7 linked regions of the Homo sapiens genome follow. The protein of the gene in region 5 purifies or fractionates together with the protein of the main gene of each other region. This does not show direct contact. Each region holds a gene or a part of one and is shown on either strand. Other genes may lie near its edges. The genes, in order: GC, ITIH4, SAA4, HRG, UBE2U, PON1 and SERPINF2.

Region 1 (2,441 bases), on a different chromosome or scaffold from region 5:
TAAGATAAGTGGTAAAGTTGTGGTCTCATTATTTCTGGATATCAAGTACCTCAGACCTATAACTTTGTGAACAAGGTATAATTTGCTTTTTCAAAGCCATGTAACTATTCCTGAAATAATTGAACATTGGTAGGCCTTCATCATTGCAGAATGCAATGGTGATAAACAAGCAGTAGATAAAATTGAGCTCAAAACACTCAATGCATGTTACCAAAATCCATGGAAGGGATATGTGAATAATTTTAGGAAGGAATATGTGAATATGTGAGTAATCCATCCAGATGATCAAAATGTATTTGGGTAGCCAAACAATTTAGTGGTACAGAAATCAAAGGATTAATTAAAGGCCAGAGAAAAATGTAGACTAACACAGGAGAAATGATAAGAAATTTCATTTCTTCATCTTATCAGATGAAGATAATGACCATGAACCAGAAGAATCAGTATATTAGAATCTTCATTAGCTTGTCACTGACAAACCAAGTTTATCTCTTGATTGAGTTAGCATCAAAAATACTTCTGGGCCAGGCACAGTGGCTCATGCCTGTAATCCCAGCACTTCAGGAGGCCGAGGCGGGCGGATCACGAGGTCAGGAGATAGAGGCCATCCTGGCTAACACAGTGAAACCCCATCTCTACTAAAAATACAAAAAAAAAAAAAAAAACCCAAATTAGCTGGGCGTGGTGGCGGGCGCCTGTAGCCCCAGCTCCTCGGGAGGCTGAGGCAGGAGAATGGCGTGAACCCAGGAGGCGGTGCTTGCAGCGAGCCGAGATCGCGCCACTGCACTCCAGCCTGGGAGACAGAGCGAGACTCCATCTCAAAAAAAAAAAAAAAAAAAAAGATACTTCTGACATTTGTTCTGAAAAGAAATCTCTTGAAATCCATCAAATTATTACTTCCTCCTTACTTACCTTAGGATATCTTCTCCTATTTTAATTAGTTTTCCCAAAGCCTAAAAACATACAACACTAAGGAAATGCACTCTGAGTTCTGAATAATAACACAGTCCAGTGAAAAACATATTCAAAATCAAAGTTATCATATAGCTTTCCAAATAACCCTGACTCTTAATTAAAGCTTAAGAAATCTTGAAGGATGAGAGGTGAGGTCACTGTTGCATATTGGGATTTTAACTCTTTGGAGATTATTATATGGGGATTGAGATAAAGGAAAGATTCATTCAAATGGGGGGAGGATGTAATAATTTAGCAGCAACAGAGATCAGAAACTATTTTAACTCTAGAATATTTACACTTCAAATAACTTGCATTTTGATTTTTATTCCTTGGAAAATTATTTAGAGAACTTACTTTATCGTTGGGACATGATATTTGTATACCAGAGCACAAAAATATATGGGCAGGAAAACTTTTTAGTTTAGATTCAACCAGTAGTAGTAGGAGCATCAGTGCAACAACTTTGCTAGTATTACTGCTAATATTCATTTTTACTGCTTTTTAAATATTTGATATACATCACCTCAATCATTGTAACAACACTGTGAGGGAGATATGGAAATTTTCATTTTACATGAAAGGAAACTCATCTTTAGACAGGATAGATAACTTGCTCAAATTCACAGACAGATAGTTAGAGTGGGGATTCTAATTCAGGTTGGGTGATTTCAAATATAAGTTTTCTTGACCATCCCCCTTGTACTGGTTCTCAGACTGTTAATTTTCTTTTTTACAGCTTCAGAGGATTTAAATAATAGTTGAAAAGCTGAATATGGTGAAATGATTTAATGTTATTAATGAATGGATTGGAAGGCTTTTGTTTCCACATTATTTTGGGCAGAGTTGTCAGTAAGTCAGCAAAATAAACGTTGACATTATTGAAAAGCCTCAGTTCAGCTAAGAACTGAGATCCAAACAAGTTTGCATCAAAAGTCTCAGGTGTAATTTCTTTAGCATAAATACAATTGAATCTGGAGAGAAAATATTGTTGTTGAAATGTGCAGAGTTCGGCGGGGGTGCTCTTCAGTTTAAGATGTGAACTTACGTTGGAATAAACTATTTTATGTTCTTAATATCTTCATCTGGCATTTTTTAATAGGTGAAAATATAGTGACTGAAAAAAGCAAGTAATAATATTTCAACAGTATTGTTTTCATTTGAATAAGAATGTCCCTTTCCTCCTAAGGTCCTTGCTGTGTTATTTTTAAGACTTGATGAGCCCTGTCTTTAAACTCAGAGTTCTTCCTATTGAAGTGCATCAGAATCCTTTAAATGTTCTTTACGGTATCATTATGTTACATGTGAGATTATGATGGATGAAGCACAAGGCAGGGGACCAGTAAACCTGGATTCTAGTCTTACATATATCAGAAATTGGCTGCTCTTGTATAAGTGTAAGCTCTTTAACTTTTCTCGGTGCTTAATATTCTCATCTGTAAAATGAGTTTGAACAGATAAGAATAAATTTATTAAAGTCTCCTTCC
Region 2 (3,500 bases), on a different chromosome or scaffold from region 5:
ACGGGCAGGGCCCTCACCCACAGTGGGGTCGCCATCGGTGAGCAGGATGATGAGTGAGACACTCCCTTCGGGCAGCCGCTCCTCCTGGTTGCTGCTGTCCAGCAACTGCACAGCCATCAGCATTGCATCATTGATGTTGGTCCCTGAGGAACACGCACTCTCAAGGTGGTCCCCAGCCAGGAGCCCTGGAAGCCCCCACCCTGCAGGGCCACAGAGACACTTACCTCCCAGGGCCTGGATGCCCGCAGCAAAGCTCCTGGCCTTGTTCACGTTCTCGGCTGAGGCTGGCACCAGTGATGGCCTCCACTGAGTTGCTTCTGTACTGAAGACGATGAGGTTGAACTGGTCTCTGGGGCTGAGGTCATCCAGGATCTTGATTAGGGCTTCCCGGGTCTGGTCAGGGAGAGGAAACATAGGTGCTTCAGAAGGGCTCCCTGAGGGCTCGTGTGCCCTAGGGCTGGCATCCTTGGACTCCTGTCTCAGGGGTGAGGTCATGGTATCTGCTCTAGGAACAGGGGCTGCCCTAGGCTCTGGCCAACCTTGGTTCCTGAGAGCCACCCGCCCCATGGTGCCGAAAGGTGAAGCAAGGGGGTCTGCCTGCCGGACCACAGCTGATAGCGTGAAGGGCCTGGGAGTTTTCAGGGCCCTGCCCTGGGCCACAGGACCTACCTGCTGGATTTTCCTGCCACTCATGGAGCCGCTCTTGTCAATGACAAAGACCACATTCTTGGGCATTGTGGTTAGGCCCTCGGGGGCAAAGTAGTGTACAAAGTAGCCGTTCTCGATCTGTGGCCAGAGTGAGACCCACCCAGGCCATCAGAGCTACAATTGGCCCTATCCCCATTCAGCCCCTTTACCCCAAATTCTGGGTTTCTGTGCTCTGTTCCAATCCCATTTCCATCCCACTGCTAACCTCCCCAAAACCTTGCCCTTTTTCAGGGCTCAGACCAGCCCCTTTCTTGCGGAAGCCTTCCCTGCTCATGCATAGCCCACCAGAACTCTCCCTGCAACTTTTCCTTCTATTTGTTTTAGTATTTCAGATGGTTTATACTAAAAAGTTCAGACATCATAAACCTGACAACCATCAAAAGAGGGAAGACTTCAAAAACATGGAGTAAAAGGGAAGTATAATAACAATGGCAGAAATGGCTGGGTGTGGTGAATCACGCCTGTAATTCCAGCACTTTGGGAGGCTTAGGTGGGAGGATCACTTGAGCCCAGGAATTCAAGACCAGCCTGGGCAACCTTGTCTCTACTGGAAAAAAAAAAAAAAAAATTAGCCAGGTGTGGTGGTGCACGCCTGTAGTCCCAGCTACTAGGGAGGCCGAGGCAGGAGTTTCTTTTGAACCTGGGAGTTTGACGGTGCAGTGAGCCATGATCATACCAAAATATAACAACAATAATAATGCCAGAAACTAGTGTGAAAGAAACTACTGCAAATCTGCATAAAACTGAGTTGTGAGCCTCCCAGCAGCAGAGGCAAAGAGGGAAACCCCACAGGGCAGCTCTTCTCAGAGACAAACCTTTTCTGCCTGGGAAAGGGAATAGTTTCAGGGACAACACAACTAAATCACGTGTTTTCTGTCTGTGCCGGTCCCTGGTGCACACTGCTAAGTAAGGGTGGTTCTTTTCCTGTTCTAAAATACCCAAGCTCAGGCCCTTGGGGGTGGACAGACTTCTAGGCTGCTCTGCTCTTGCCTGAAGTCCACCCACCTGAATGGAGCCCCCGGAGATGGCCCGGTCCACATCATAGCGGATAATGAGGTTGCCGTCCAGGACTGTTTCTTGCTGCTCTGGGGACTTTTGCTGCTGGGAAAGTGTTGGCTTGAACCGGATGTGAGCCTGGAGGAATAATCCGGGCTGAAGTTGGGAGGAACAGCAAAGCCAGGCCAACAACACCCTCTACCCCTGTCTGTATATTGGGAAATCAGAATTCCAGGATGCAGCCTTGGGTCCGTATTCCAGGGCACTTTCTTTCAGGCTGAGTTATTGATGGACCACTTTCACGTAGGGGAGGGGTGTGATGAGCTCCCTGTTCCTGGAGCTGCGCAAGCAGAGGCTATTCCAGGATGTGTGCCATCCAACCATCTCCTTCTCTCCACCTGGCCCCAGGACCCTCACATCAGTCTATTATCCAGCCCCTTCCCAGACAGATCTCAGGGCTCATACGAGGACGCCATGGTCCTTCTCTAGGCTTTGCCCTCCCCATCTGCCAAATGACAGCAAGGATGCAGAGATCTCAGGAGCCTCTCCAGGTCACAGCTCACAGGAGGGAGAGCCCATCCTGCTTTCCAGAAATCCGGGCTCATAGGGCTGGCCTGAAGGCAGGGCCCTTGGTACCCTCACCTGCTGACCACAACAGGCCCACCTTGGTCTTATTCTGCCAGGTGGTGAGGGCGTCTACCAGCTGGTTGGTCATGAAGGTGCTCTCTGTCTCCAGAAAGCTGATGCCCTGGGGCTCGAAGATGTGAATGTCCATCTGGAGGCAAGATGTGGGTCCCTGGGTCAGCCAGGAGCCTGGGCTGGGGCTCACAGGAGGCTCAGGGACAAAGAGGGGCCGCCCTCAGCAGGGCAAGGGTCATGCAGGAGGCCTCCCTGGAAGAGGTAGCAGCAGGTACCTGCAGGTGCTTGACCAGCTGCTGGGGCCGCACTTTCAGCAGCAGCTCGTACACCCCCAAACGCCGCTTGAGCAGCTCCTCATAGACCAGCTCAAAGGTGATCTTGGCATTGGGAGCCACACTGACCGACACCTGGAACTGCTCCATGTTTCTCCCGGTGGCCCTGGGGGAGAAGGGCATCAGGCCTGCTCCTCCAGGACAGGTGGGGTAAGGCTGGTAGAGGTGGGAGCAGGACTAAGGGCCAAAGGCAAGGTGGCCTTTGTCTAGACCCTCCCCACTGAAGCTGCCCCCCACCAGCTCACTTGACGAGGCCAGCGCTCTTTCCCTTGGCCACTGCTGCGCTGTACTGTGCCTGGGCTTCAGCCTTCTCCTTGATGATCCCTGGGTAGGTCATGCCATCGATGATCCTGGGGGCAGAAGGGTGGGAGTTGTTGAGAGCCTGGTGGCAGGGGCCCATTCCACTCCTGCCTCCTCCAGAGAGCCTTTCTGGACTCGGTGTGCCTCTTGACACAGTGACTCCCATCTTTGCCTGAGCCCAGTGCCATTTATTATGCACCTACCGCATACAGGACCCTGTGCAGGGCACTCTGCAAAGTGCTCCAGGCCTCTAGCTCCCGGAGGTGTGTACAGTAACAGTAAGCATTCATTTTATAGAAGGGACGAAGGGGAGGCTGCAGAGGGGCAGGGCCGGGCTAAATCCTGCCTTCTCTCCACCTGTCCAGTCTGGCCGAAGCTGGCCCACATTCCCACCTGCCCCTTCCATTTCACGGACTGTTCCAGGGGAACTAGTTCATCACCAGCAAGAGCTCTCTGAGTCACACTTGTTCCCAGCCCTGCGTGCAGCCGTGTGGGGCCAGGACTGAGGAGGAAGCAGACGTAGGG
Region 3 (4,067 bases), on a different chromosome or scaffold from region 5:
GCCATGATAGCATAAAACTTTAAAAAGCCTAATTATCCAATAATGTAGGATAAATTGTGATATCAGTATACAATGGAATACTATGTAGCAATGAAAAAGAACAAAATATTAATACACATGACAAATGCTGTCATGTATATTAGTATGTCGTAATGTTGAGTGAAACAAAGCCGGATACAAAAGACATATTCTGTATGATTTCTTTTATTCAAAGATCAAACACAGGGACACTAATCAACAATGATAGAGGTAAGAATAGGAGTTACCTTTCGTGAGGGTTGTTAACTGGAAGAGGGCATGAGAGACCCATCCGGGGTGTGTGAAATGTTTGACATCTTGATCTGATGGTGTAATATGGATGTTTGTATGTGTAAAAACCTCATCAAGCTATACTGTGTACTATATGTAAGTTATATATCATTTTAAAGTTTTTAAAAAGATTAGTGGAAAAATAGATGTTTGAAACAGGTCTAAGCCAGGAAGAGCTATAGAAAATGTCTATCAGTGCCTGTGTTGTTCAATCAATAAATATTTTTGAGTTCTGCTGTGGTTTACGTGTTACCAAGTTCTTTAAACCAACTCACTTGGAAAAAAGAAAAGCTGTGATAAATAGTTTTAATTGTTACTTAGGTACTGTGTTCTAAGGGATATTTCTCACTAACTTCATGTATTATTTTGTGTCTGTAATTTTGTCAAATAGTTTATCTCTGGCATGGCATGACTGTCCTTTCTCTGATGCATGCTTTATGTTCATTCTATGTTTTCCAGATCTACTAGCAAGAGTTTTCTCCAAGCATCTGACAGATTCTGTCACTGGGTGACAGAAAAACCCAAGACAGTTGTTCTCATTGGCATTGTGCTTAAAGTAACCTGGGGAGTTTTTCAAATGCTATTCCTAGTCCCACTTCACTTCTAAGATTCTGACTCAGTAACTATGAGAAGAGGCTTCAGAGTGTACTTTTAAAACAAACACCGGCCGATTTAAATGCTGGTGGACCATACAACAAATTCTGAAATACACTGACCTAAGGGAAAAGATATTCTCTACTATGTGCAGAAAAACTTAGTACATGCTACCAAAACTTTTTAAAAACTATTTATAGAATATCATTTTTAAAAGCACAAAATGCAGAAAAAATGAAAATTTATAAAATTTCAATTGAAAAATTACAAAAAATTCAACTACAAAATTAATAACAACACATGAAGTTCAAAGTATTGCATAACCTGACAAACATAGTTTTCCCATTTTAACAGCTAGTCAATAAGATTCGTTTCCCATCCAGAATGGCAGAAGTCAGTTTCCCAGCCGTATCTCAGCCCTCCTGTGGCTAATCAGTAGAAATTTGCTCTTTTTATTTATGGATAGAAGTTAGGGCTTAATTTTCATAAGCTCTGCATCCCAAGCATTGGCCATTTGCTTGGGTACAGGATGGGATTTCTCTACTCTCTGCTAGGCATGTCTCAGTCTTGGAGTATAATTGTGAACTCAGTATATTCCCTGAGGTGGATGAGCTAAATAAACATCATGCCCTGAGAAATCTGCCATCTGTAAATTTCCGCAGTGGGAGATAACCCCCTGGAAGTTTTTATCCTTCTGCACTCTACACCAAGAGTACAGGCTGGGCCCAAAGCATCTTTAACCTCTCGTCTGGAAACCCCAAGGGAGGGTGATAAATCAGACCAGCCTAGAGGAAGAAACAGATACAGAAAACCACACTCCTGCTCTGACCTCTGTGTGGCTTCTCTAAGGAGCACTCACATCCAGTGAGTATGTGGCCCCTGCTCAGAATGAATCCTGGGTATGTGCCCTCCATCCTCCAGAGTTCTTACCTTGGAGAGCCTCCTTGAAAAACGAACGCCAGCTTTCACTGGTGACTCCCATGACCAAGGAGCAGAAAACAATGCCTGTGAAAAGCCTCATTGTGCTGAAGAGAAAGAAAGACAGGGGCAGAGGATCATAAAAAAAAACACAGATCTATGTTTTGAGGACTGAATTTCTTTCCTTTTTTTCTTTCTTTTTTTCCTTTTCTTTCTTTCTCCTTCCTTTCTTTCTTTCCTCCCTTTCTTTCTTTCTTTTTTTTTTCCTATTGCCCAGGCTAAAGTGCAATGATATGATTAAGGCTTACTGCAGCCTCGACCTTCTGGGCTCAAGTGATCCTCCCACCTCAGCCTCCTGAGTATTAAGGACTACAAACGTGCACCATCACACTCAGCTAATTTTTTTTTTTTTTTTTTTGGTAGAGACAAGGTCTTGGTATGTATGTTCGGCCCAGGCTAGTCTCGAACTCCTGGCCTCAAGCAATCTTCCTACCTCAACCTCCCAAAGGATTACAGGCATGAGCCACTGTGCCAGCCAAAGGACTGAATTTGAAAGACTAATTCCCCATTTCCATTTGTTTGTATGAGAATCATAACTGCATGAAAGATTGAAACGGGTTTTAAGAAGAAGCATAAACCCTTAATTCTCAGCCCAGATCTCTAGAAAGAATAAGAGGATTCCAACGTGTTATTTGGTCTGTGGTCAATTTGTCACCCAATACAGCAGACTAAAGTCAATCAAGAAGCATTTCCTGAGTTCCTACTCTCCTCAGCACTGACCCCGTAATGAGGTAGAAAACACAGTTTCTCTCCAATTGAAATTTGACAATTATGTGAGAAAAGGATCTCAAAAGAGTCAAATAAGAGAAATTACTCCTTGGAAGAAACCTCACCTGTGGACCTTTCTCCAGATGAAATTTCAGTAAAGGCAGAGCTGCTGGTATCTTCTGGCCGTGGAGCTATAGTTGGTACCTCTGCTGGCTTTGGCATTAATGGGAGAACGGTTTTAAATCCAACAACCTGCCTTGCCAAAGTCCTTTTTGCTCAATTCTTTGGGTATTTTAAAAATTAACATATTGGGTAATAGTGTTTCCTTATCTAGAAGTAGTTTTCCAAATTGGGTCATCAAGGTATTTATTTTCTGGCAGTTTTTCTTAATTGCCACTTTTCCCTCTTTTTAGTTTCCTGTATCACAGAAGAGTTGTATTTGCAAAATCCAGTGTGGGAAGACAGAGGTCTTTCTCCACTTTCTTCTCTTTGTGTCTTTCCATTCTTAACTGTTTAGTAGGAGGTCTTCCCAAAAAATTGCACATAGATATTATGCTGTAGGAAGTGATCAATATTATTAGCAAAAGAGATGTTTGCTTGTCTCTTGTGACTTCTCTCTAAAGAATGTAAGGACACAGAACAAGCAAGACTTGACTGTACCATTCATGGGATGAGGTAATGATTCTGGGAGAATACAAGGACAGGAATAACACCAGAAGATCAAGGGTGAAGGCCTTTGAGGCATAAAAACTCTTTTTTCATATAAATATGTATTATTCTGCACTTTCTTTTAAACTTACTATTTATTGGAAGTCTTTCCATGTCGGGCTTGTTGCTTTTTTTTTTTTTTTTTTTACAGCTACACAGTATTCCATTGCATGGATGGACCATAATTTATACAATATTAATGGCTGTTTTGACAGTTATTAACCTTTTGATATTACAAATAATGGTGCATTTATTAACCTTGTACATATGTCTCTTGCACATGTACAAATATATCTCTAGGATAAATTCCTACAGAAGAAACTCCATGGTGAAAAAGTATCAGATTTTATAAATTTTTTGTTTGTTTGTTTGAGACAGAGTCTCACTCTGTCCCCCAGGCTGGAGTGCAGTGGCATGATCTCAGCTCACTGCAACCTCCACCTCCGGGGTTCAAGAGATTCCCCTGCCTCGGCCTCTTGAGTAGCTGGGATTATAGGCACATGCCACCACATCAGGCTAATTTTTCTATTTTTAAGAGAGACGGGATTTCGCCATGTTGGCCAGGCTAGTCTCGACCCACTTACCTCAAATGATCTGCCCACCTCGGCTTCCCAAAGTGCTAGGATTACAGGCATGAGCCAACGTCCCTGGCCCTAGATTTTATAAATTTTTATATGTTGCAAATTGCCTTCCATGAGGGCTGTATCAATCTCTACTCCCACCAGAAATGAGTGAAAGAACTTGGTTCCACATTGTCTCTCACACAGTAT
Region 4 (3,500 bases), on a different chromosome or scaffold from region 5:
TTCATTCTCATTTATTTGATGTGTTTCCTCTTCGAGTGTTTTCCTAGATGTGTTACACATACACAGGGAGATCTAAGTGTTTCATATAAATGGGTCCATAGTCTAAGTACTGTTCTATAACCTGCATTTTCCTATACCAATATGTTTTCAAACTCCAGTGCGCATGGGTCCAAACATTCTTTGAGCAACTGCATGGTACTCATTTCCTTACTTGTATGCAACACAATCTATTTAACGCTGCATTTTCTGAATGCATAGCAAATGTCAACCAGTTGCTCTACAAGACAGCTCTGGGTGAAAGTACTTGGGTCCTTGTAGAGAGAGCAGGGAACCATCTAACTATAGGCACATTACTGGGTGTGGTGAGGTAATTTCTCTGAACTTCAGTTTTCCATCATAGTACAAGAATGTTAGTATTGGATGATTTGCAATGACACAACCCTCATATGTTCTTGTCTTTCCCTGTTTCCTCTTTAGATTTTCTCCCTACTCTGTCAGATGTCTACTCCCCTACCCATCCTTCAAAAAAAAAAAAAAGTGTTTGAGGAAAGCAATTTTTTTGTATTTTTTAAATACCTGCTGCCTGTCTTTTATGGCCTCAAAAGTGACAAATTAAAAGGCAGCTAGTCAATTGAGGCAGGTGGAGAGGGTATGCCATTCAGTTCCTGCTGCCAGGTTGGAGCCTGGGCCTTCAGACTCCAACCGAACCTTAGTGGAGACTCACCACTCTTGCAACTCTCTCGATTCGGTCCACTCTGAAAGAGGCAAAGTCATCATTCTCCTCTTTGTACTTCTCAAGGGCTTTGTTGGCTTGTTTTCTGTAGCGCTCAGTATCCTCAAAGAAATCTATGAGGACCGGACTATCTTTGGTATTGGCCAGTGCTGAAGAGACTGGAGAAAGAAGATAGCAGTGTCACAGTAAAGGGCTGGAAATGTTAATGGTGGCTTGGTGGCAAGAATGACAATAACTTTCATTTTAAGGATGGGCAAATTGAGGGTGGGAAGAGCTGAGTAACTGCTTCAAGATCAATCAGCCATTTGGCAACCGAACTAAACTGCTGATTCTTCCTTCGAGTCTTTCTGATCCCCATGTCTATGTTGTGACCCCTACTCATGATGCCTTCACCAGTACCACTGATAAAGTGCTAACATATATATATAAATATGACAACTATGACATTCGTTAATATATAAATATATATTATCTATTATATAATATCTATTATATATTTATATATTATATAATATATCATATGTTTTTATATTATATAATCATATATTTAGGTATTAATATGATATATATATTAACATATATATTAAATAATAGAGATGGGGTTGAGTCACATTGCCCAGGCTAGTCTCAAACTCCTGGGCTCAAGCAACCCTCTGGCCTCAACCTCCCAAAGTGCTGGGATTATAGATGTGAGCCACCGCACCAGGCCACTAATATTTTAATAAGTTCTTCCTGTTGTTGCCAAGGGGGAAGACAGAGCATTAACATAGAGTTTTGCCCAGAGAGAGGAGAAGATACAGATCATCCTTTCTTCAATGCAAACTCCTGTGGCAGTATCTTGCATTTTTGTATATAATATCATATTTGGATTTGCTATTTTAAAAAGGAATCCTGTGATAATTCTATTTGAAAATGTAAATTAAAAGGGTATGGAGGCTGGGCGTGGTGGCTCACACCTGTAATCCCAGCACTTTGGGAGGTCAAGGTGGGCAGATCACCTGAGGTCAAGAGTTTGAGGCCAGCCTGACCAACATGGAGAAACTCCATCTCTACTAAAAATACAAAATTTGTTGGATGTGGTGGCATATGCCTGTAATCCTAGCTACTTGGGAGGCTGAGACAGGAGAATTGCTTGAACCCGGGAGGTGGAGGTTGCAGTGACCCGAGATCACACTATTGCACTCCAGCCTGGGTAGCAAGAGCGACACTCTGTCTCAAAAATAAAAATAAATAAATAAAAAAGCTGTGGAATTTAGAGTTAATACTCCTGGGATTGTGTCACATCTTCACAATATCTTGGCTTTGTTCTTGAGGCCAAGTCATTTAACTTCTTTGAGCATCAATTATTTTGTCTTAAATAGAAAGTGTCATAACCTTTACTTCATAGTCCCAAGACTTTACTTCCTCCCAAGACTATACAACTGGCAGATGATGACTCAAGCTAAAGCAAGCCTGACTCCAAAGCCTATATCTATAATGAGGCTAACCTACCTCTCCTAAATCTCTATTTTTATGTGTTGAATTTCTTTAAAAGAAGGTGTACCAGTACCAGGGAAATTTGTCTCAATTCTATTCTCTGGAGAATGAATAATAATGGAGTCTATGAAGGCTTTTCTTTCATGTACATCATAGATATACATGAATACATCTGAATATATATGAATACATATGTACATAGATGAGACAAATACCACTGTATGATTGAATTTGTATTAATCAAGAATTAATTAGCAATTTAACAGATTACCATACCAGAACTTGTGGTGCAGTTAAAGTCAATCACTCTGAGGTCCTGAGATTCATGGGAATGTCTTGTAGCTATTACCTTACATTGTCCGATCACCTGTAAGAAAGAGGCTCTTGAGGACTTGCTGAGTCATTGCATCCTGCCTTCCTCAGGTCAGATATGAAAGAGCAAAAAGGTGATGCAACATCCTCCTACTGTTCATTTAAAAATGCATTTCTTTCATCAAAGCTTGTCTCAAACCCTGCATTTTCTTAGTCAGTTTCTGTGTGCTGCATCCTGTTGGCACTCAAAATCCTCAGGAGAACCAGCGAGAAACTATTTAAAGCATCATGGCCATACCCCAAACATTTTCAAGGGAAAAAGTGGTGAAAGTTCCAGGAGTGTGAACCTCTCATTTTCTGGAAATGAAATCTTGAATCTCTGCTTATTCATCTTCATGTTCTCCACCTGTGTCAGAGAGCCTGGCATGTCAATACCCACCTCCCACATGCAAAGCCAGATCTTATTCCTCAGTGTATATCCTAGGTGCTGAGCAAGACCCAATTCCTCACTGCAAGTAATTACTTTGGCCATTCCTGAAAATAGGACCATTGTTCATAGGACACAATTACAAGTTCATAGATTCTGATACCTGTAGACTGTCAAGAGTGGAAGGCCCTTAGAGTCCATGAATTCCTAAACCCACTTCTTATTTTACAGTCAAAAAACACCAAAGTGGAGGGATGTTATTAGATGATTTACCCAAGGACCCACAGCTGGTTATGCTCTTTGATGGGACCACACACCCTGCTGAGTTGTCTTGAACTGGGTTCCCAGGAAAGACTCTCAAGAGTATTGCTCAAGGTTAACATCATCTTCATGAATCTCAAGGCAAAAGCTGCCCTTTCTCTTCTACTGTGTTAGCCCAGGCATTGGCTGAGTGAACAGAGTAGATGGAAAATAAGAATGAAAAGAGCAGAGTGAAGGTGCCCTCTTTACTTACTATTTCAGATGGACGTCTGGAATCAGGTGGCTCACAGT
Region 5 (2,623 bases):
ATGAGTGAATACTGGTGAGGCAAGCAGAGTTGGGGGTCAAAGGCAGAGACATATTTTAGAATAGGAGAGACCAAAGCACATGTGTAGGTTGAGACAATATGGCAAAAAGAGACAGAGAAAATAAAGTTATAAGAATACGAGGAGATAGGTCAAGGTTTAAGAGAAAATGGCACGTACTCTGGGATAAAACAGAAGAGAAACATTAGTAAATAGCGACATCTCATTCCTTGAATATGGAGGAAACAAGACAAGAAACTAGGCAGATGTAGGTCCATGTATAGATCCCGCTACTTGGGGTCATGTCCAGCCTCTGAAGCTTTTAATTGCTCCCCTCCTATCCCAACCTCTTTCTGACCCATTCTCTGCCTGCAAAAACTTGTGTCCAGTAGCCTAACAACTGTGGGAGTGTGACACCATTGATTGGCATATGGCAATGAACACCCCTAACTTTGGTAACTTTGTTCTAAAGGAGTAGCACTCAAAAAAGTCAAAGCAACATCTTTACTGATTTGTACTTATATTTCTAATTTGTACTTGCAGTGAGTGGGTGAGAACAACTTAAAAAAAATGAAATCCAAGTTCTGAGAGTCTTCCAAAATTGCTCCACAACGCTGGGCTATGGCGGAGGCTGTTTATTTTTTGAATCTGATAATGTTCTGCTTAATCTTCTGAAGTATTTGTATTGAGAGTATTGGTCCAGGAGATCAGATCTTCCACTTCCTCTTCCCTGGGCTCATCTGTGTCATTTTCATATAATGAAGTGTCACTCTTCCACCCCTCCTCTTCTGTTTCATAAATGTCTGTGATGCTATTTATTGCAGTTGGTGACTCAAGAAAAATTTCATCTGTGGTGGGAATTATAAAAAATAGAAATTTAATAGACATAATAAGAAAAACAATAAAAAGAGAAGTGTTCCTGCATTTGTAGGATAATGCCAAAGACCATCTGAATGAATGTGAGCAACCTTTTATACACTTTCTAAACTTCATGTTTTGTAAGTAACTTTATTTGTCAAAAATCATTCTTTCCATTTTGCTCAATCTTTTGATGCTTTGTTAGTTCATTCATTTAGCATATATATTTACTGGGTCTCTGCTAAGGGCCAGTTGATGTGCAAGGGAAAAGCTGCTTTGGGAGCACAGGGAGGGAATCACTGTGTCTAAGTGAAAACTGAGTCGGACTTTGAAACAGGAAGACCAGTTTGTTAGACAGAGAAGGGAGGTCAGAACATGTTAGATAGAAGAAACAGCACACATCGTATAAGCACAAAGGTATGAGAGGACTTGACAGGGTTAGGGGTGATCAGAATGGATTCTCCCGCGCTTCCACTGTGCCAGGTGCGGTGCTAACCCGTCGACAGCTATAATATTATTTAACTCAGACACAACCCTTGTGATGGGCAGGTATTATTATTCTTATTTTACAGATGAGGAAACTGAGGCTGAGCAACCTATAGTAACTTGATCAAAGATATCCAGCTAATAACAAGACTCGTCCCAGATCTGTCTATCCAAAAACACAATGTTATAGTATACAGAAAGTTTCGTGGAGCTGGAAGGGAGGCTGAAGCCAGATCAGGAAAGCCTCATATGTCATGCAAAGGACTTTCATCTTTATCTTATAGGCCTTGTAAACAGGGAAATAAACTGATTATACTTTTCAAAAGGAGAATATAGATATAATGTCTATATTTCTAGATGTATATTTCTACACAGCATGGGGACCTTGCTTTCTGGGGATGAACTCTAGCTGGTACTATTTATGTTCTGTTAACTCTAAAATCTCACTGCATTCTCTTCCCTTTTTCCTAGTTGTCACCGGATTCACTGCTGATTATGGGTTCCAGGACAAATTTTGTTTGCCTCATATGTTTATTTCCCTCACACATGAAATAAACCCTGTAATATTTGCTGTCTTCTAATGTTATAGACATGGGCTACAAGTGACTTGTTTTCCTTCTGTCTTTGGTTTATAGAAAGATACACAGACAGACCGGGCATGGTGGCTTACACCTGTAATCCCAGCATTTTGGGAAGCCAAGGCAGGTGGATCCCTTGAGGTCACGGGTTCGAGACCAGCCTGCCCAACATGGTGAAACCCTGTCTCTACTAAAATACAAAAATTAGCCGGGTGTGGTGGCAGGAGCCTGTAATCTCAGCTGCTCTGGAGGCTGAGGCAGGAGACTCACTTGAACCCGGAAGGCAGAGGTTGCAGTGAGCTGAGATTGACCCACTGCACTCCAGCCTGGGTGACAGAGTGAGACTCCCTCTCAAAACAAAACAAAGAGAGAAAGATACACAGAGAGATGTGAGTTTACACAGTCACCATTATCCTATGGTTATCCTGAGGCCCACAGTGATTTTTAATTTTTTGTACTTTCGGTACTAATATTTAGTTGTAATTAATTTAAAACTAAATTCTGTCTGTGCCTTGAGAAAAGCATCTATTTATTTTCCATGAACATATTATTGATGGACTAACTCCAGTTCTTTCTAACCATGCTTGGGCCTTTCTGACTCCACATGCTTTTGATTACAAGAAATATAAAGCCAAGTCAACCCAGTTTAAACAATAGGAGAGTGTTTTATCTCACATAAGAGAAAAGCCAGAGTGGAGAGCAAG
Region 6 (3,500 bases), on a different chromosome or scaffold from region 5:
ACATTATAAATCAAATACATCACTAAGCACACTGCTTAGTTAAACTGACTTGTTTTTCACAGTAATACTTTCTTGATGAAGGAAGTATTGCCTTGATTTACATTTTGGTACAAATTCCTCATCTTGTCATAAACCTGCACTACTGACGTATCTATACCTGCATACTATTCAACTCATTATACACTCACATCTTTACTCAAAACAAAGCTATTCAGACATATCAAATCTTCATCACAGTTCCCCCTCTTAAAATGTACTTTCTTTCCAAAAAGGAAATAAAACCAGTATGCCTTCACAATGAAATTTTTGATTTGATAAATTTCACCCCCTGAAAAATTAAGACATTTTACATTTTTCCTAATTTTATCTCACTAGGGTAACATGTTAAAATGTATCATATTACTTAAAAAAAGAATATATTCCAAGATATCTCCTGAGAATCTGAGTAAATCCACTACATTTCAGAGAGTTCACATACTTGCCATCGGGTGAAATGTTGATTCCATTAGCAAAATCAAATCCTTCTGCCACCACTCGAACTTCACTTGGACTATAGTAGACAACATACGACCACGCTAAACCCAAATACATCTCCCAGGATTGTAAGTAGGGGTCAAGAAAATAGTGATCATTTGTGCCATAAAAGTGCTCAGGTCCCACAGCAACAATATCATTCAAACTGCAATTAAAACATACACACATAATATATAAGGTGAAGGTATTGAACATTACAGGATTATTAACTGGCATTCCTCACTGTCTATTCCTAAAATCAAGATGTGGGATGGAGCCTTCGTGCTAGCTATAATGGAACACAATTAATATGAAATTAGTCCTGCCGATACAATCCTTAGACAATCATTGGTCTAAGAAATCTGAGGAGGTGATTATAGCACTGTAACATAAAAATCCTATTATATGTATCTTAAAATAGTGTTACGTCGTGTGTGTGTGTGTGTGTGTGTGTGTGTGTGTGTGTATCTGTGTGTGTCTGTGTGTAAATACACTAAATTCAGTAGAAATTAAATTAAGCCAGAAATCATTGTCAGGGCAAAAATGTGCTCACATATCTGGGCTCACATAGAACTAACTCCCATAAGAAATTGAAAAAATGCTGAACCAGCAGCCTGGATACTTGCATTTTAGTTTAAGCTCTGCTACTATTAGCTGTGTGATCTAAGAAAAATCAATCTTTTCACATGTCAGGACCTCAGTTTTCTTATCTGTGAAAGCAGGATGATAGACTGGTTGATCTTCCAGCCTTAAGATTTCGTGATTCTAAACTGAATGAAATGTCCATGAACAAGAATGCTCAGAAATAGAATGCTATGGCTTTTTTTTTTTCCTTTCTGATTAGGATTCTCTGTTACTGAAAATGTAAGATATATGAGTCTATTTTTCTGCTTTAATGGATACAATAGGGAACACATAAGTGAGTCATTCTTTGCTGATTGAGGTGATGGAAGTTCCCCAGGGCATGATCTGGGAGAAAATTATCTCTGCTCTATTGCAGAGGCGTCATGGCCAGCGCATCAGCTCTGACGCAGCTCTGAGCTCTCAGGCAAGTTAGACAGGCATGCAGAGCCTCAGTTTTCTCATCTGTAAAGAGAGGTTAAATGATATTCTCAAAATCATACAGCTCATTAGTAGAAAACTAAGGGTCAGGATCTTAATTTGTGGAGTTGCAGTGGGAATTACAATGAGACAATGCCTGTTGTGTGCTTTGCAGGGAGCATGACATTCAATAAACCCTCAATCAATGCTAGCCACTATTACAACATGAAAAAAAAAAAAAGGTCTCGGAATTTAGGATTAGTCTGGATGGGCTCCAGACATAAATCTACAATCTGATTTTACTCTCTCTTTTTTAAAAGTAAATTTCTTAAATTAGTATGCTGGACTATCATTTGTCTGTTTTTCACAGAAAGGGGCAGAGTGGAATGGTTTAGAGCAATAGCTTTTTATTGCTGAAAATTTACTACCCCCAGGTGTAGTAAAATAAGTAAATAAATAACAAATTTTTAAAGGGTAATAGAGTAATAGCTTTGAAATCTGATGGACTTCATTTGCATCCTGACACTGCTTGCTATCCTTATAATGTGGGGCCACAGCATTGTCACTAAATTTTGAGCCACTATTCTGAACCTCTGTTTTCTCTGTATACCTTGAAAGGCTAGAGTAAGAATACAATGAAATAATGAATGCAAAGGCCTTCACACCATGCCTGGCATACAGTAAATGACCAATAATAACAGTTGTGATATATGAATAATAACAAGTTTAAATTATAATAGATTTAGTTATTGGAATATTAATGTTATAAAAAACCATAAAATACAAAGAAGAAAATACACACAGCTAATCCTTGGATTGAGAGAGCAGAACTCTAGTTAATTACGGCACCGTGGTTATTTTCAGTCTCCAATGCTGCCTAAGACCAATATTTTTGCAACTGGCTCAAGAAAAAAATACTCCAATCCGGTAACGTAGACCAATCTGAGATTTCCAAGATTAAATGTTAAAACACATAATTTTTTTCACTATTTTGTAGAGGTTTAAAGCACCAGCTCTGAACTCATGTTACCAGGATTAGAATCACAGCTGCACCATTTACTGATGATGTCATCTGGGGAAACTTAACAATTAGTCCAGGCCTCAACTTTTTAAAAATCCAAAATGGATATAATAATAACACCTAATTCAGAAGGTATTTGTAAAACATCAATAAAATAATCTGTTTGAATTAGTTAGTGTAGCACCTGACTTACAGAGAAAGCTCATTTATTAGTGTTATCATTTGCCCAGCTTCTCCATTCTACATACTGTTCTCTACTTTAAATCTTGGTGTTCCTCACATTCTCCACTCAGTGACCTTATTCTCTCTCCAAAATATATTTGTTAAATAAATGCACGAATAAACTCTTCCACCAAAAGCTGTTCTCTGAACTTTTATTCATCTTGATGGGGCAGAAGATGACCTGAGCTGGGGTTCCTACTTGGCCACTAGTGAGTTGATTGGCCTTCATCCAGTAACTCAATTTCTCTCCAATCTCATTTTCCTCATCCTCAAACCACCAGATAAGAAAGAAGAGGAAGGGGTCCTGGTAACACAGAGTGCACACTACATACCAGGCCCTTAGCTAGGTACCTGCAAAGAGTACAAATCTAGATTTACAGATATGGAGGTAGTCAAATGCTGTACATAAATTATATAAAAATAGGTTGGGATTCTAGAAAATCGTAATCAGTTGGAGGTAAATGTTTCAGAAGATAGAGTCGGATTGTTCTCCTAAATCCATCACTGGCCTTACAAGCCAAATCTTCACAGGGCATGTGAGGAAGTTGACTGAGATTGGAGATTCTTGAGTGTTTTATTTCACCATATGTTACATGAACAAGGTGCCTAGGGGGAATTGAGTGTTACCACAGATCTGCTATTGCATAAATTTTGTGCAATCAAACAGCAGCGGAGGCAGTATAAGGAGGTCTTAGATGCACTT
Region 7 (2,895 bases), on a different chromosome or scaffold from region 5:
AGGAAGGTGTCAGCCCTGTGCCAAGGTTTCCCCACCTGCTTCCCCCAAATCCTCAGGCACTGACTGTCTCCAGCTGGAGCTGGGTACTCCCGGCAGCCTGCCCCCGGCTGGCGGGCACCAGCTCCTGGCAGAGGGGCTGGTGTGTAATTAGAAGCTCCACAAACTCCCTAATTGCCAGTTCTTCTCCCAAACCAGGAGGCTGGCGCTGTTCTGAGCCGCCCTGTTGCCGGCTGCCTGAGGCATAGAGAGAAGAAGAAGCCAGGAGCAGAGCCAGGCTGGCGTGGAGGTGTCCCGGGGGAGGGCTGGCGAGGTCAGAGGGGACCACGGGGTGGAGGATGCCTGGCGAGCGGCCAGAGGCCAAACGTGGCACTGCGCGGGCTGCCACCCCTGCTGGGCCCAGGGTTCCTCAGCACAGTCCACCCTGCGGCCGCCTCCCTGCCTTCCCCACCATCCTCACTTGTCCCCACCCATGCCCAGAACGGTGACATCAAACCAGCCAGGCCCATTCATTCTTTATTCAGGTGGCATAAAAATCACTACAAAAACCTTACAAAAGAGCCTTAAGGAGCTCATGGGATCCTTCCCTGCCTCGGTTCCTGAGCTCCCGGGCAGAGGAGGGAGACAGGAGAGGAAGGAAGGGAAATGCTGGCAGTGTTGGGATCTCGAGGAGCCGTGGGAAGTCTGGCGTGACAAGGCACAGGGGGTAGGATGGAGGCTGATGGACTCTCGGCAGGTTAGGCCACAGCCAGGCTGTGCCAGACACGAGTTCCACGCGGGGCTGAGGACAACGCTTCGCCTCCCGAGCCACCACCAGGGCCCGTCTCTCCCCACCCTAGCCTAGGTGTCCCGGGACAAGTCCAAAGGCAGCCCTCTCCCCCTCCCTTTTTCTCTGGTAAACAAAAGTCGGGGTGTCCCAGCTGACGTGGGGAGCAGCTAACCTGTCTCCTGGCAGAACTAGAAGCACCTCCCTCCTGCCCAGGCCCCGGTGCAGGACACCCTCTGAGCCTGTTTGGAAGAAAGATGAGGGTCAGGCTCCCGGCTCCCCGATGCCTGCCCTCCTCCCAGCCGCGCCCCCCCCCCACCCTAAACTCCCCAAGAGGTGTTGGGAAAGAATGGCCTCTCTCAGACTGCCCCCGGCCCCTGCCCCAGTGCCACAAAGCCGGTTGGAAAGAGTCACATGAGTGGAGAGGCTGGTCCAGGCAGGGACTCTGGATGCCACAGCCACGGCCCCTCACTTGGGGCTGCCAAACTGGGGGTAATCCTCCTCCATGGGGGGCACAAGTTTTAAGTCAGGGCCGAAAAGCTTGTCTCCGCGGGGGAAGCCTTTCAGGCTCTGGAGGAAGTCCTTGTTGCCCGGGGAATCCTGCTGTTCCTTGAGCTCCCGCGGTGCACTGGGGTTGGGGTTCCTCACGCTGCCCACGAAGAGGGGAAGGCCTGTGGTGTCCTCGAAGATGAAGAAGAGGAAGGGGCGGTTCACGCTGAAGGAGGACAGGGACATGCGGGACATGGCAATGCTGGTGGCCGCCGCCGCCTCCACGCCGACCTCGCTGAGCTCCAGGGTGGACTGATGCTGCACGCCGGACACCACCAGGCTCTGCTCGGAGATCCCACGCAGGTCTGGGGCCTGGAACAACTCCTGCAGGCCTGCCCAGGGCCAGAGATGGCTGGTCAGAGCTGCCCTTGGCCTCACAGGCTCCTGGAGCTGCTTGGGAGGGTGTCTGAGATCCTGGCCAGGGAACAGCTTGAACTCACAGATACCTGCTTCATTCCTATCCGGTTTCCAAGACTCAGCTTAAACACCACCTCCTCCAGGAAGCCTTCCCTGATCCCCAGCTCTAAAGTCCAACCAAGGTACATTTTCAGTGTTCTCCCAGGTGAGCTGGAGAGAAGCCCTCTCTGTCTTATCGCTTATGCTGTAGTAAGTATGTGATTGCTCGTCTGCCCACCCCATTAGACTCAGCTGTTTGTACATGGTGGGCTCCCGGTACCTGGTACAGTGCCTGGAATACAGCAGCTGCTTAGCAAATGGCTGAAGGATAGATGCTTTATTTATTTATTTTAGTTATTATAATTTTTTTTTGAGATGGAGTCTCACTCTGTCATCCAGGCTGGAGTACAGTGGCGTGATCTCGGCTCACTGCAACCTCCTCCTCCCAGGTTCAAGCAATTCTCCTGCCTCAGCCTCCCAAGTAGCTGGGATTATGGGCATGCGCCACCACGCCCGGCTAATTTTTGTATTTTTAGTGGAGACGGGTTTGGCCATGTTGGCCAGGCTGGTCTCAAACTCATGACCTCAGGTGATCCACCCTCTTTGGCCTCCCAAAGTGCTAGGATTACAGACGTGAGCCACCATGCCCGGCCTTTATTTTTATTTTTGAGACAAGGTCTTAGTTCTTTTGCTGAGGCTGGAGTGCAGTGGCACAATTATGGCTCACTGCAGCCTCAGCCACCTGGGGTCAAGAGGGCCTCCCACCTCAACCTCCCCAGTAGCATGCACCACACCTGGCTAATTTTTGTATTTTTTGTAGGGACGGAGTTTCAATGTGTTGCACAGGCTGGTGTCGGACTCCCGGGCTCAAGCAATCCACCCACTTCAGCTTCCCAACGTGCTGGGATTACAGGCATGAGCCACTCCACCCAGCATTTCTTTAACAGTGTGACACCCCAGCTTCTCCTCCTTCCCCTTCCAGGGAAGCCAGCGAGGCTCACATGCCATCCCAGGCTCTCTACCCAGACTCTCCTTGCAATGCGAGGTCTTGGGCAGCAAAGCAGAGCCCCATTCCCCGGGCCACCCCAACTTCCTCTAGGACAGAGGGTCTGGGGGCTCATATTCAACCCTCTCCCCGCTCCCGAAGCCCTGGAAAAGAGCAGGACACAGGACAGCTCTGACTCAGC

What was found.
Region 1: the proteins of UBE2U (region 5) and GC purify together in Homo sapiens (affinity purification with mass spectrometry; one large-scale study listed by BioGRID and IntAct). This does not show direct contact.
Region 2: the proteins of UBE2U (region 5) and ITIH4 purify together in Homo sapiens (affinity purification with mass spectrometry; one large-scale study listed by BioGRID and IntAct). This does not show direct contact.
Region 3: the proteins of UBE2U (region 5) and SAA4 purify together in Homo sapiens (affinity purification with mass spectrometry; one large-scale study listed by BioGRID and IntAct). This does not show direct contact.
Region 4: the proteins of UBE2U (region 5) and HRG purify together in Homo sapiens (affinity purification with mass spectrometry; one large-scale study listed by BioGRID and IntAct). This does not show direct contact.
Region 6: the proteins of UBE2U (region 5) and PON1 purify together in Homo sapiens (affinity purification with mass spectrometry; one large-scale study listed by BioGRID and IntAct). This does not show direct contact.
Region 7: the proteins of UBE2U (region 5) and SERPINF2 purify together in Homo sapiens (affinity purification with mass spectrometry; one large-scale study listed by BioGRID and IntAct). This does not show direct contact.

Annotation. Positions count from the first base shown.
Region 1 is NC_000004.12:71,743,639-71,746,079, forward strand, and holds part of GC (vitamin D-binding protein isoform 1 precursor), read right to left. Parts: intron 1-2,441. UniProt on the Homo sapiens protein: Involved in vitamin D transport and storage, scavenging of extracellular G-actin, enhancement of the chemotactic activity of C5 alpha for neutrophils in inflammation and macrophage activation.
Region 2 is NC_000003.12:52,824,173-52,827,672, forward strand, and holds part of ITIH4 (inter-alpha-trypsin inhibitor heavy chain H4 isoform 1 precursor), read right to left. Parts: intron 3,026-3,500; coding exon 2,921-3,025; intron 2,782-2,920; coding exon 2,619-2,781; intron 2,480-2,618; coding exon 2,369-2,479; intron 1,843-2,368; coding exon 1,714-1,842; intron 1,143-1,713; exon of another isoform or gene 1,033-1,142; intron 787-1,032; coding exon 670-786; intron 394-669; coding exon 225-393; intron 166-224; exon of another isoform or gene 144-165; coding exon 18-143; exon of another isoform or gene 1-17. UniProt on the Homo sapiens protein: Type II acute-phase protein (APP) involved in inflammatory responses to trauma. May also play a role in liver development or regeneration.
Region 3 is NC_000011.10:18,234,003-18,238,069, forward strand, and holds the start of SAA4 (serum amyloid A-4 protein precursor), read right to left. Parts: upstream 2,801-4,067; 5' UTR 2,715-2,800; intron 1,929-2,714; coding exon of another isoform or gene 1,925-1,928; coding exon 1,834-1,924; intron 1-1,833. Other genes in the region: SAA2-SAA4 protein precursor, read right to left, coding at 1,834-1,928. UniProt on the Homo sapiens protein: Major acute phase reactant.
Region 4 is NC_000003.12:186,669,014-186,672,513, reverse strand, and holds part of HRG (histidine-rich glycoprotein precursor), read right to left. Parts: coding exon 3,463-3,500; intron 2,577-3,462; coding exon 2,486-2,576; intron 892-2,485; coding exon 725-891; intron 1-724. UniProt on the Homo sapiens protein: Plasma glycoprotein that binds a number of ligands such as heme, heparin, heparan sulfate, thrombospondin, plasminogen, and divalent metal ions. Binds heparin and heparin/glycosaminoglycans in a zinc-dependent manner.
Region 5 is NC_000001.11:64,265,246-64,267,868, reverse strand, and holds the end of UBE2U (ubiquitin-conjugating enzyme E2 U), read right to left. Parts: intron 846-2,623; coding exon 661-845; 3' UTR 501-660; downstream 1-500. UniProt on the Homo sapiens protein: Catalyzes the covalent attachment of ubiquitin to other proteins.
Region 6 is NC_000007.14:95,307,533-95,311,032, forward strand, and holds part of PON1 (serum paraoxonase/arylesterase 1), read right to left. Parts: intron 680-3,500; coding exon 479-679; intron 1-478. UniProt on the Homo sapiens protein: Hydrolyzes the toxic metabolites of a variety of organophosphorus insecticides. Capable of hydrolyzing a broad spectrum of organophosphate substrates and lactones, and a number of aromatic carboxylic acid esters.
Region 7 is NC_000017.11:1,752,871-1,755,765, reverse strand, and holds the end of SERPINF2 (alpha-2-antiplasmin isoform a precursor), read right to left. Parts: intron 1,645-2,895; coding exon 1,232-1,644; 3' UTR 501-1,231; downstream 1-500.